Regions from separate parts of the Homo sapiens genome. Here region 1 is linked to region 2. Evidence: fine-mapped expression QTL. Tissue or cell type: tibial artery. Region 2 holds a variant in brackets; the other region holds the start of a gene. All regions are shown on one strand. Distances are from middle to middle.

Region 1 (5,149 bases), 110 kb before region 2:
CTGCTGGGGGCAACTGGACTCATTCCTACTGGGGAATTCCTCTGAGGAACTGCCTTGAGAGCATTTGAGAATTGATCTTCCTTAGGGAAGGGGAGGCTGACACATTCATCCACTGTTTGGTTAAGGACTGACCCAGGGCTGTTGGAAACTTCCAGGCTAGGCAAGATCCCACAGCCCTTGAGAAAGCCTCCTGGTAGAGAGGAGAAAGGGGGCCTGCTTTGGATAGACAGTTTCTCTGTACAGAGGGCAGCTCATTGCAGCTGCCGGTGAGCTCAGAGGTGGGCCCAGGGGACATGGAGCCGAGCATCACTAACACTCACGCTTGTTACTCTGGTTGGCAGGCCTGTGCCCCCTTATCTAGCTACATAGGTCCCATCTCCTCCTTGAAAGTTCGTTCAAGAGCACCCACTTCTTGGAAGCATTTTCCAACTTATCTCCACCCTACTCCACCTTCAATGTTCTGAATAGCCCTGGATACCCTGGACATGACTCTATAAGAGTACTTATCTCTCTGCTTACTAGATAGAGCTTTCCTGTCTTTCTTAGCAAGAATAGTTCTTTTTCATCATTGCACATGTAGGGCCCAGATTTTTTTAGCACATTACAGGCACTTAACCGATGCCTTAAAATGAATTCAAGTTCACCTTGCTCAGGGACCCACTCAGAGCAAGTGGTCAACAAATGTGGACTCCTTTCCTCCATCTGATTTAGGAGAACAGTCATCTAGTGAGTATACAATATGACAAATATATTCTTTAAACAGAAATGCCAAGGAAGCACAAAGGAGGGAGTAATTAACTGGGACTATACCAATGAGACTATAGTTACCTCATTTGACAGTCTTAATTACTTAGGTTTTTTTTTTTTTTTTTTTTTTTTTTTTTTTTGAGACGGAGTCTCACTCTGTCACCCTGTCTGGGATGCAATGGCATGATCTCAGCTCACTGCAACCTCTGCCTCCCGGGTTCAAGCGATTCTCCTGCCTCAGCCTCTGGAGAAGCTGGGATTACAGGTGCCCACCACCACGCCCGGCAATTTTTTGTATTTTTAGTAGACACGGGGTTTCACCATGTTGGCCAGACTGGTCTCAAACTCCTGACCTTAGGTGATCTACCTGCTCGGCCTCCCAAAGTGCTGGGATTACAGGCGTGAGCCACCGCGCCTGGCCTACTTATAGTTTTAGTTTTCCAGAAGCACTAATAGAGCCATCTGGTGCTCCTTCCACCGCACTGGGCGTTCCCTTTTGAATCTCTCCACCAAAGAGGAAGCCACAGGGAGCTGCGGGACCGAGTGAACCACCCTACCTCAGGCAGAGGTCCCATCTGCAACTCTAGTTTGTTTGCTTCTTTCATTTATTCAACACGTGTTTATCGATGGTCTCATATGGGCCAGCACTGTTCTAAGGAAACAGGCAAAGGTACTGCTGTAATGCAGTTTACCCATGCAGTGGGGAGAGTGGGGGGCAGATAAAAAATAAGCAACCAATCATGTAGGCTACATTAAACAGTGACAAGGGCTATGAAGCAATCAAACAGGATGCGCTATGTTTGGGAGAGGTGGAGGTGGGGTGTAGGTGCCAGAGACAAGCAGATCACATGGTTGGGGAAAACCTATCTGCGGAGCTGACTTCTGGGCTGTGAGCTGCGTGCCAAGAACAGCCATACAAGGGTTCTTCCAGGCAGAGGGGACGGCAGCTACAGTGGGCCTGGAGCAGGACCCTGGGACTCCTGGTGCCCAGCTCAGAGCTGTCCTACTGCTTCTGGCCACGGAGAGAGAATTGCAGAAAAGGAACAATGCTGGGTCTAAAACTGGTATCTGTTCCTTACTTGGAGTAAACGAGCTGGTACCCAACTTTCAGTTCCCAGCAGGTTCATTTCAGGCTTCTGTTTTCGCTCATGAGCATGTTGTTCCCTCTTCAAAGTCTGATTGGGTTTCAAAGGAATCTGAAACACTTACAGCAAAACCACCAAGCTGCATCCTCCAGGTAGACACCCCCGAAATGTGGCATTTCCGTGGGAAACCACAATGAATCACTCATTGGCTGCCCGACCTCTCTGCCCAGTCAGAGATTGATTTTGGTTTTCCCAAACTTTGTAAATCCGCTCCAGACTGTTTAACAACCCCCACTCCCCACTACACCCAGACTCTCAGATTAGGAGCAAAATCCCAAATTTTGTGAGGTTTTCTGTTTCGGATTTCACCAGAAGGGGGTCTGCCACAGCCACTAACCATTTCCTCTGCAGAGAGCCGTTTCTGAAATGCTGCAAAGAAAAACAATCACCCAATGATTAGGAGGGAAATTAAGTTCTAAAGAAAGACTACTGTCTCTGACTTTGAAAGTAGACATAGATATGCACAATATACATCCCACAAATTAAAATCCTCCTTTCTCTGATGTCTTTTAATGGTAATAATAAGGACAAGCATGGCTATCATTTATTTGGGCGTTTCCAATGTGCCAGTCCCTGTCTAAACATTCAGCTTCCAGATCAAACCTATGAGGGTGGAATTAACATCCATTTCATAAATGGAAACTGAGGCTCAGGAAAGTTGAGCGAGTTACTCAAGGTAACATGAGTAGAAAAAAGGCCATATTCCAACCGGACACAGAGCCTGCAGCCCACACAATTACTCTCCATACTGTTCCTATACTATCCTGACTGGGAAGGTCCTGTTCCCTTGGCACTGGGCAAAAATAAAATTATAAGAGCAGAGAGGAAGTGGTGAAAGGGGGCAGCCTGGTGAAATCATTCCTTTACTGAAAATAGGGGTAACGGCCAGGACAGTGCAGGTCCATCCTCTGCAGATGGAAGACAGGCACGTCCTTTGCCGCTGTCCCGGCCTTAGAAAGGCACCTTCCGCGTCCAGGGTTTTCTGTGGATAAATCCCACCCCTTCCACCTCAGGCGGGGAGGAGGCCGGCCGGCCGGGGCATGGGGCGGAAGGCGAAGGACGCCCGACCCCGGCCGAGGTCTGGGGCCCCTCCCACGCCCCCCTCGTGGCTGCCGGCGGGCCAAGGGTTAAGCGAGGCGGGAGCCCCCGGCGCGGAGCGGCTCGGGGCCGGGAATGCTTAGTCAGGATTCCGATTTCCTGTCGAAGTGTTTGGATTTCCTGAAACCCGCGCCCTCCGCCGCCGAGCGGGATCGTGCGAGCCGCTCGCGTCGCCGCGGCCTCCTCCCCCTCGGCACATGGTCGCCCGCCCCTTCCTGCGCCGCGCTCGGCTCCCGCGCCTCGCCTGGCCTGGCCGCTGCCGCGGGCGAGCACTGTGCGCTGGGCAGCCCCGGGCCCGCGCCTCCCGCCCAGCCGGCGCTTCCCGGTCGCAGTTCGCTTTCCCACCCGAGAGCCGCGAGCGCCCGGCCGAACCCGCGATGGAATAATGCCCAGCGGCCCGCCAGGTCCCGGTGAGTTGCGGGGCGCTCGGGCGCGCTCGGCGGGGCCGGGCGGAGTCGCCCACAGTCGCGGGCGCCCCCTGCCCAGTCTCTCGCGCGAAGAAGGGCGCCGGGACGGGGCGCGGGGCGGGCTCCCGGCTCCTCTCGCAGCGGGGTGTCCTTCTCCGCGGGGAGGGCGCCGGCCCTGGGCTGGGGCGTGTGCGGGACGCGCGGCCAGGCTCTGCGGGGCCGGGCGAGGCCGCCCGGTGGGGGGGGGAGGTCTCCTCGCCTCCAGCTCGGGAGAGGGGGCCCCTGCAGTGGGGCCGGGGACGGGGCCCGCCCTGGGGGGTTTCGCGTCCCCCTCCGGGGGAGGGCCCGGGACGACGTGCTTGGCGGCCCGGACCCCGCCGATGGGGCGCCCTCCCGGCATTGTCTCTGGTGCAGCCGAGGAAAGTTCCCCGCGGCCCCCGGCCCCTACCCGGACCCGGCGCTGCTTGGCAGGCCCCAGGCCACTTGCCTAAAGCAAAAGAAGAGAAACGAAAGGGAAGGGGGTGGGGGGAGTCCTACTTGGAGCTTGGGGTTGGCTCCTGGGCGGACCGTGAAGTGGCTTGTGTTTTCTGCTTGTACCATTTTGGGACCTGCTGCGTTTTCTGAGAGCGACATGAAGTTTCAAAGAAAAAAGAAACTTGCCGGTGTCCGGTTTTCTGCGGTTTGATACATCCCAAGAGGTTCATCTTGGGCACTTCTAAAGCAGTTTCCTTTAATAATGTGGTTTTCCAGTAGCTCAGGGAGAAGGATGGTCAACTGCAGACCATCATCGTTAACTTGACCTCAACTTTACCTGTACTCGTCAGGAAAGCAAAAGAACTTTCTCTCGCATTTTCCCCTGTCTACTCTGTTAGGTTATCTTGGCGTGATTGATTCTGGGATGACATCAGGACCTGGATTGCTGAGTAATGTTTTGGGATTGTAAAAGCTTATCAGTTTTTAGGCCAGGGTTATCTGTATTGCAACCTTCATCCCAAAGCCTTTCTGTTTTGCAATTGTAGCGCGGCCAGATAGCTTTAAGAAAATGCGGGTCTTCTGGAAACACCCAGTGAACAGTTTGGAAAGAAAAAGATCTTTGAGAACAACTGATTCACCCCCTTCAGAGAAGGCCCAGAAAGGTGACCTGACTTGCCCAAGATCACATGGCCAGGAGTAGTTTCCACTTCTTCAGGCTCAGTCCCATGCCCCTTCTGTGTTAGATTTTGATCTGTTAGCCATGAAACAGATTTGGAAACGTCTTCTTTGCGTCACAGCCTTCACCACTTTAGTGCCTTCTCTTCTGTCCTGTTAATGCTGCTATTTTTGAGATATGCACTTATTTCAAACTGCATATTTTGAGATAGGGAGTTAAAAAAAACAAAAATCACCTAACGCCACTAAGTGGATTTGGAGATTCAGCTACCAAATGGATTTGAAGTATAAAATGAGTGGCTTATTATACGGGGAATTACTTTCCCTATCCCATTCTTTTGTGCAAAATAGAAACTCCCAGGTCCAAAAAAGGGCAGTATCTTAGCACATAATGTACCCTCTGATGTTCTCTAGACTTGATTTTCAGCCCTCCTGTTTCTTGTGAGCTAAGCAGCCCATCTATTTTTCTCATGAGAGCTCTGAATGGCTGGTTTTTCATTTTTAGTATGTGATAATGTTGGAGAGAAAGGACTTTTCGCAAGCTTGCCATTTGGTGAGGGAAATTGAAATTCTCTACACCTCCCCAGTCCTCACCAGCCACAG
Region 2 (5,149 bases):
AGAGCAGTGTGGCCAGAGAGAATTTGGGGAAGAAGAACAGGAAGCACAGGAAGGCAATGAAGACAAGGAGGGATGCTTGATATTCTGAAAGGAGGGTTGGAGGTCTGATATGTATTTGGATAATCTAAAGGGAGGGTTTATTTATGACAAAGGTACTTTGTTAGTGGGATGATGATTTTTAGTCACATTGCTGTTTTGTATTATTAAATGGAGAGCTGTTGGTATTTGAGAGAGATGCCCAGTTTTTCCAGAGTCTGAAAAGAGATTTTTGTTGATGTTGTAGTATAAAAAGTACTCTGTGACATGGCACATGGCTGCCAAAAGTGTGAAAGAAACAGGAAATCACTACACACTTGAAATATAATAGACCTTTTCATTCATCTTGTGTTTTTTTCCCTCTGAATTGTTAAATAAAAGTATATTCTGTTACATGCTACAGCTAGAAGCAAGCTTTAAGCTATCAGAATGGTTGTGAAGAACTGTAGAATAATATGAAGATAACTGTATTTGTTTCATGGCATAAAGTTCTTTTCAAATTTGGTTACTCATCCTGTGGTTTAAAAGTTAAAAAGAGACCATATATATTGTCTCTGAACTCTAGCTGAATCTATGTGAAACACAAGTAGAACTTTTGGGAGGCTGTGAGGTTTGTAGAAGACTTTAATAGAAATGAATGAAGAGCTGGCATTTTGTAATAATATTTCATCATGTGCTTTTCTTTTTCCGTTACCCAAGGAACATATTTGATGTGCTTGATATTTTTGTTGTTGTTGTTACCTGAAAATCAAAGAGTACCTCTTTATATGTGTGCCTCAGCAACTTTTTGTGGTTTATAGGATAATGTCCACTCTCCTTAACAGCTGCACCTAGAGTCCTCTGCCTTCTGCTGCTGCCAGAAGGAGCAGAAGCAAACTGGAAGCCTCTTGCATTTTCACGTCTCCTTGCCTCCTCCTGTACCAGATGAACACCTACTCATCTTTCTGGACTGAGCTCAGATGTCACCTTCTGAAGAGACCCTTCCTAACTACTGCTTTTCCCTGTTCCCCAGTCCCCATTAGAAGTTGGCAGCCCAGTCCTTGCAGCTCCAGCTGCTCTGTGCACACTGTGGCCCAACACCCATGAGGCTTCACGGGGTTCCCTGATGGCTGTGAGTCTCTTCTGTAATCTCAGCTTCTGGGGGATAGGCATGGTGTTCCATTCTGCATGCTGCTTGTCACATAATAGGCCCTCCAGAAATACTACTGAATGAATAAATGCATCTAATAGTCTGATAATTTTATCTGTATGATTGGCGAAAATATTAATCTTCTGGTGTTGTGACTTGTATATGAACCTTTCTGTTTCATGATGGCAATATGCCCTGCCATACTTTAAAAAAATTGTTACAGCCATGCCGTTTGTTTTTTGTTTTGTTTTGTTTTGTTTTTGAGACGGAGTTTCACTCTGGTTGGCCAGGCTGGAGTGCAATGGCACGATCTTGGCTCACCACAACCTCCGCCTCCTAGGTTCAAGCTACTCTCCAGCCTCAGCCTCCCAAGTAGCTGGGATTACAGGCATGTGCCAGCATGCCTGGCTAATTTTTTTATATTTTTAGTAGAGACAGGGTTTCACCATGTTGGTCAGGCTGGTCCCGAACTCCTGACCTCAGGTGATCCATCCACCTCGGCCTCCCAAAGTGCTGGGATGACAGGCGTGAGCCACCGCGCCCAGCCAGCCATGCCTTTTTACTATAGAAATAAAGATGAAAAATCTCAAGTAATCCCATCAACTAAAGATGATTAGAGTTAAAACATGTTGGTTTATAATTCTTTATAAAATAGCCTTTTAAATCCAACTGATTTGGACTAGGGTTGGGGGTGCTTAGGAAATAAGGAGTAGATAATAAGGTAGTATGGAGTAGATATATAATTGTAATTCCCCCTTGAGTTTTGAGAGCTACTTACCCAAAATAGAGCATGACACGGTTTCGCCTCCAAACAGAATTTCCATATGAAAGATTGAACCGCTTTGTGCTTGAATCACTGTGAATGTTGCTGCTGCTAGTTCTTTCTGTAATGTGAATAGAATTTCCTTAGATAAGTTGTCAGTGTATTATTTTCCCTTTAAAAAAAAAAACTTCTTTTTTAGCTGTTATAGATTTCTTAGATTTTTATATAGAAATATTTTCTAAAATTTTTTTTACAAAAATAAAATGAAAATTGTGCCTGTTGTGCTGCATGTGCTTTCAAGTTAGAATCAGTCATTGACATATTAATGGCTTCTTCCAGGTTGGAAAATTAATAAAGATTATCCTTTTACTTGAAGAAAGTGATAAGAGAAGTAGAAAGAAAATCAGGCTGAGATTAACTAAGGAAGCAGCCTTTTTATTCTACTTTCAGCCATTCAGAA[G/A]AGGGAAAAAATCCAGAGTTTCTAATAAGAAAACGAAAAGTTGTTTTGCATTCTGGAATATTTCCAAAAGCATTGCTATTGATGTTGAATTCCACTTTGGGGTTGGAGATTAGGAAATTTTTGGAAGTGTTGAAGTAAAATTAGATGTTCTTTGTATTATTTTTTATTTGACAGTGTACAAATAATGAAACTGTAAACTAAAGTACAATGACATAATCACAGAAATGATCATAAAAATGGTTATTTAACTTGAAGTGGGATTGAATATTCAAAAAGTGCAGGTGGTGTGGATGGGCTTCTGGGTGAAATTAGGTTTTCTCTTTCAGCAGGAAAAAAGACAGAGTTTTCATTATACTCCCTGCCATTGGTGATATGGTGTAGACCTGTAATGATAACAAGCACTCAACATCTTCATTGAAAAGCACCAGAAAGATGCAGAGCAGAAGCTGTAAACTTCACAAGTGCCATCAAATCAGACTGTTTCTTCAAAGTTGAATGGAAAATTTCAGATGTTGGTCATGAAATGTTTACTCTGTGACCCAAAACCAAGTTAACAGGCCTCCAAGAGAGGTGCTTGCTCTTGGATTTGAAATAGTAGCCATAGTGATAACTTCTCTTCTCTGTGTAAGCCCTGTAATTTTGTGTATTCCATCATTCTCTCTGGATTTAGTGGTTCTGAGAAAGCAAACCTAGACCTTGGGCCGAGACTTCACACAGAAATATTTGGGGATCTGCTCTATGGTTCTCTGGGTTTGGGCCTCAGTTTCCCCATTTTTCAGCTTTTGTGGATTCTGATCATTCTCCCCACTTGATGTGCATTGTGTGTTTGCATGTGTGTGTGTATGTGTTTCTAGATATGTCTGTGAATTTTGGGGTGTATTTTTTAAATGCTTTGCTTGTATTTTTAATGTTGCTAATAAAATACTAGCTACATGATTTTGAGGGCTTGGCACCTCTTGACTAGGTAACAGTACTGTGCTAAACTCTTTACATGTTTATCTAATACTTTTCTCATGATAACCTGATGTGGGTGGACGTCCTATTTTTTTACAAATGAGAAAAGGCTCTAAAATTAAGTAACTTCCTCCACTATAATAAGGAAGGCAGGAAGTAAGGCTGGATTTCATGCCTGCCAGATTCCATAGTCTGTGGACTAAGCAACTGTGTGACTTGCTTTACTTAACATTCTGGGCCCGTTTTCTTCAGCTGATGCCCAGGGAAGTGAAGTAAACTGACCAAGTTGACACAGTTAGTAAGGAATGCTCAGAGCCAGTGTTCCTTTCTCTCTCCAGACTGCTTCCATGGAATTCTTGCTCTGGGCTTGGCAGTTCCATCATGGTTCAGAAGGATGGATCTAAGAGCAAGATGACATTGTGATGTCAACTAACCTTCCAGAGAATGGTCTAAGGGGTAATAGGGCCCTACTCGCTCTTTCCACTCGAAATAGCCATGCCCCCTTTCCTTAACTTTGGAGCCCACAACACTTAAGATTAGCTGACATTTAATATGTGTGCCTGCTAGGTTCCAGGCTCTTTTTATATCCTATCTATTCTTTATGTCCATCTGCTTGGGAAGTAATCTTATTCCCTTTTTGCAGCTGGGGGAACTGAGCATTGGAAAGGCTGGTCTGGCCAATGGACAGCTAAGGTCTTTCTGATGCCAAAGCCCATTTTTGGTACACCATATCATCTGCTACTGAGAAAAAAAGGCTAGAAGTGGAAGGAGGTTTGTTTGTACTTTCAGGAGCATCCCAGAGAATCGTAGAATTGGGTTCAGTATATTCTTCATGGCTTCACCTAAAATTTTCAGCTCGGGGCATTTTTATAGGTTTAAGAATGATTATATGTAAAAACAGGCAAAATTTCCAGAAGGCAACAAAAGATAAATGATAGAACCCTGTCTTCTGTCCCTTTCCCCATAGAGATACCTACACACATTTAAACTGGGAAAGGAAACAATGATCCATCGTAAAGCTTACCCGTAAGACAAATTGCCTTTGGCAATATAAACCTTAAATGCTCATGAAGGCCTCACATGAGTTAAGTACAGTTTAACATGATTCTGCCATTTGAGCACCTACTATGTGCCTGGTTTTTGGTAGATGACTGAGGGAAGGGTAACAGAATGAATTAGACATGCTTTCTGTCCCAAAGGTGTTCACAGGTGAATGGGGTGGTGGTTGTGGGGTGCCAGGTTAGCTGCAATATAGCATAGACCGGTCAGAGCTGTGATAATTCAGATTGCTCTGAGAGCACACATGAGGTCATGACAGGTTCCAACTGGAGAAATCTTACAGGGTCCTTTCGGACCTGGACCTGAGGAATAGATGGGTAGAACATTTCAGGCAGAGGACACCTTTTGAGCAAAGACCCAGGGTGAGAAAATGCAAAGTGGAATGGAGACTCCCATTAGATGGGTAGTACGGTTTCATGCTTACTCAGTTTGGTTTGATGAAGCAATCTCTCTCTCTGTCTTTGTGGGTTTGTGTACAGTACATGTGTGTCTTTCTCTGTTAAATGCCTTTTATGTTTTGTTGGGGACGTGTGTGGGAGTGATTCATTTCCAGCTGGGTCCAGCTGTAATGAAAATGTCCTGTTTGACAAATTGAGGAATTAGATTACAACTGTCTCTCCCTGAAAGCTGTGACACTAGCTGTAACATCAAACATCCCTCCCTTTGTGGGGCAGGACAGGAGGGAAATGGTGATTCAGGGCTGCTGGATGTGTTGACTAGAAAATTATTTGAGTAAATAAGACTGTGT

Which allele goes with the higher level. Positions count from the first base shown, and alleles are read on the strand shown. Sizes are in standard deviations (SD) of each study's normalised expression.
As copies of A replace G in region 2, the expression in tibial artery of the gene that starts at base 3,186 in region 1 goes up (small effect, 0.16 SD a copy in GTEx).

What was found. PIP is the estimated chance that this variant, and not a neighbour inherited with it, causes the effect.
Region 1: it holds the start of ASAP1, and the variant in region 2 is fine-mapped to the expression of ASAP1 in tibial artery (GTEx, PIP 0.97).

What each region holds. Positions count from the first base shown.
Region 1 is chr8:130,441,711-130,446,859 of GRCh38, reverse strand. It overlaps ASAP1 (ArfGAP with SH3 domain, ankyrin repeat and PH domain 1), which reads left to right and starts at 3,186. Exons shown (of 30, transcript NM_018482.4): 1 at 3,186-3,400. RefSeq lists silencers at 3,102-3,201, 3,242-3,331, 3,342-3,501, 3,552-3,631.
Region 2 is chr8:130,329,883-130,335,031 of GRCh38, reverse strand. All of the region lies in intron 3 of ASAP1 (ArfGAP with SH3 domain, ankyrin repeat and PH domain 1), which reads left to right. Among named protein-coding and RNA genes, the nearest start is that of ASAP1-IT1, 36 kb to the right of the region's middle. RefSeq lists an enhancer at 1,103-1,682 and a silencer at 4,884-4,933. The variant G/A (reference allele first, on the strand shown) is at 2,389.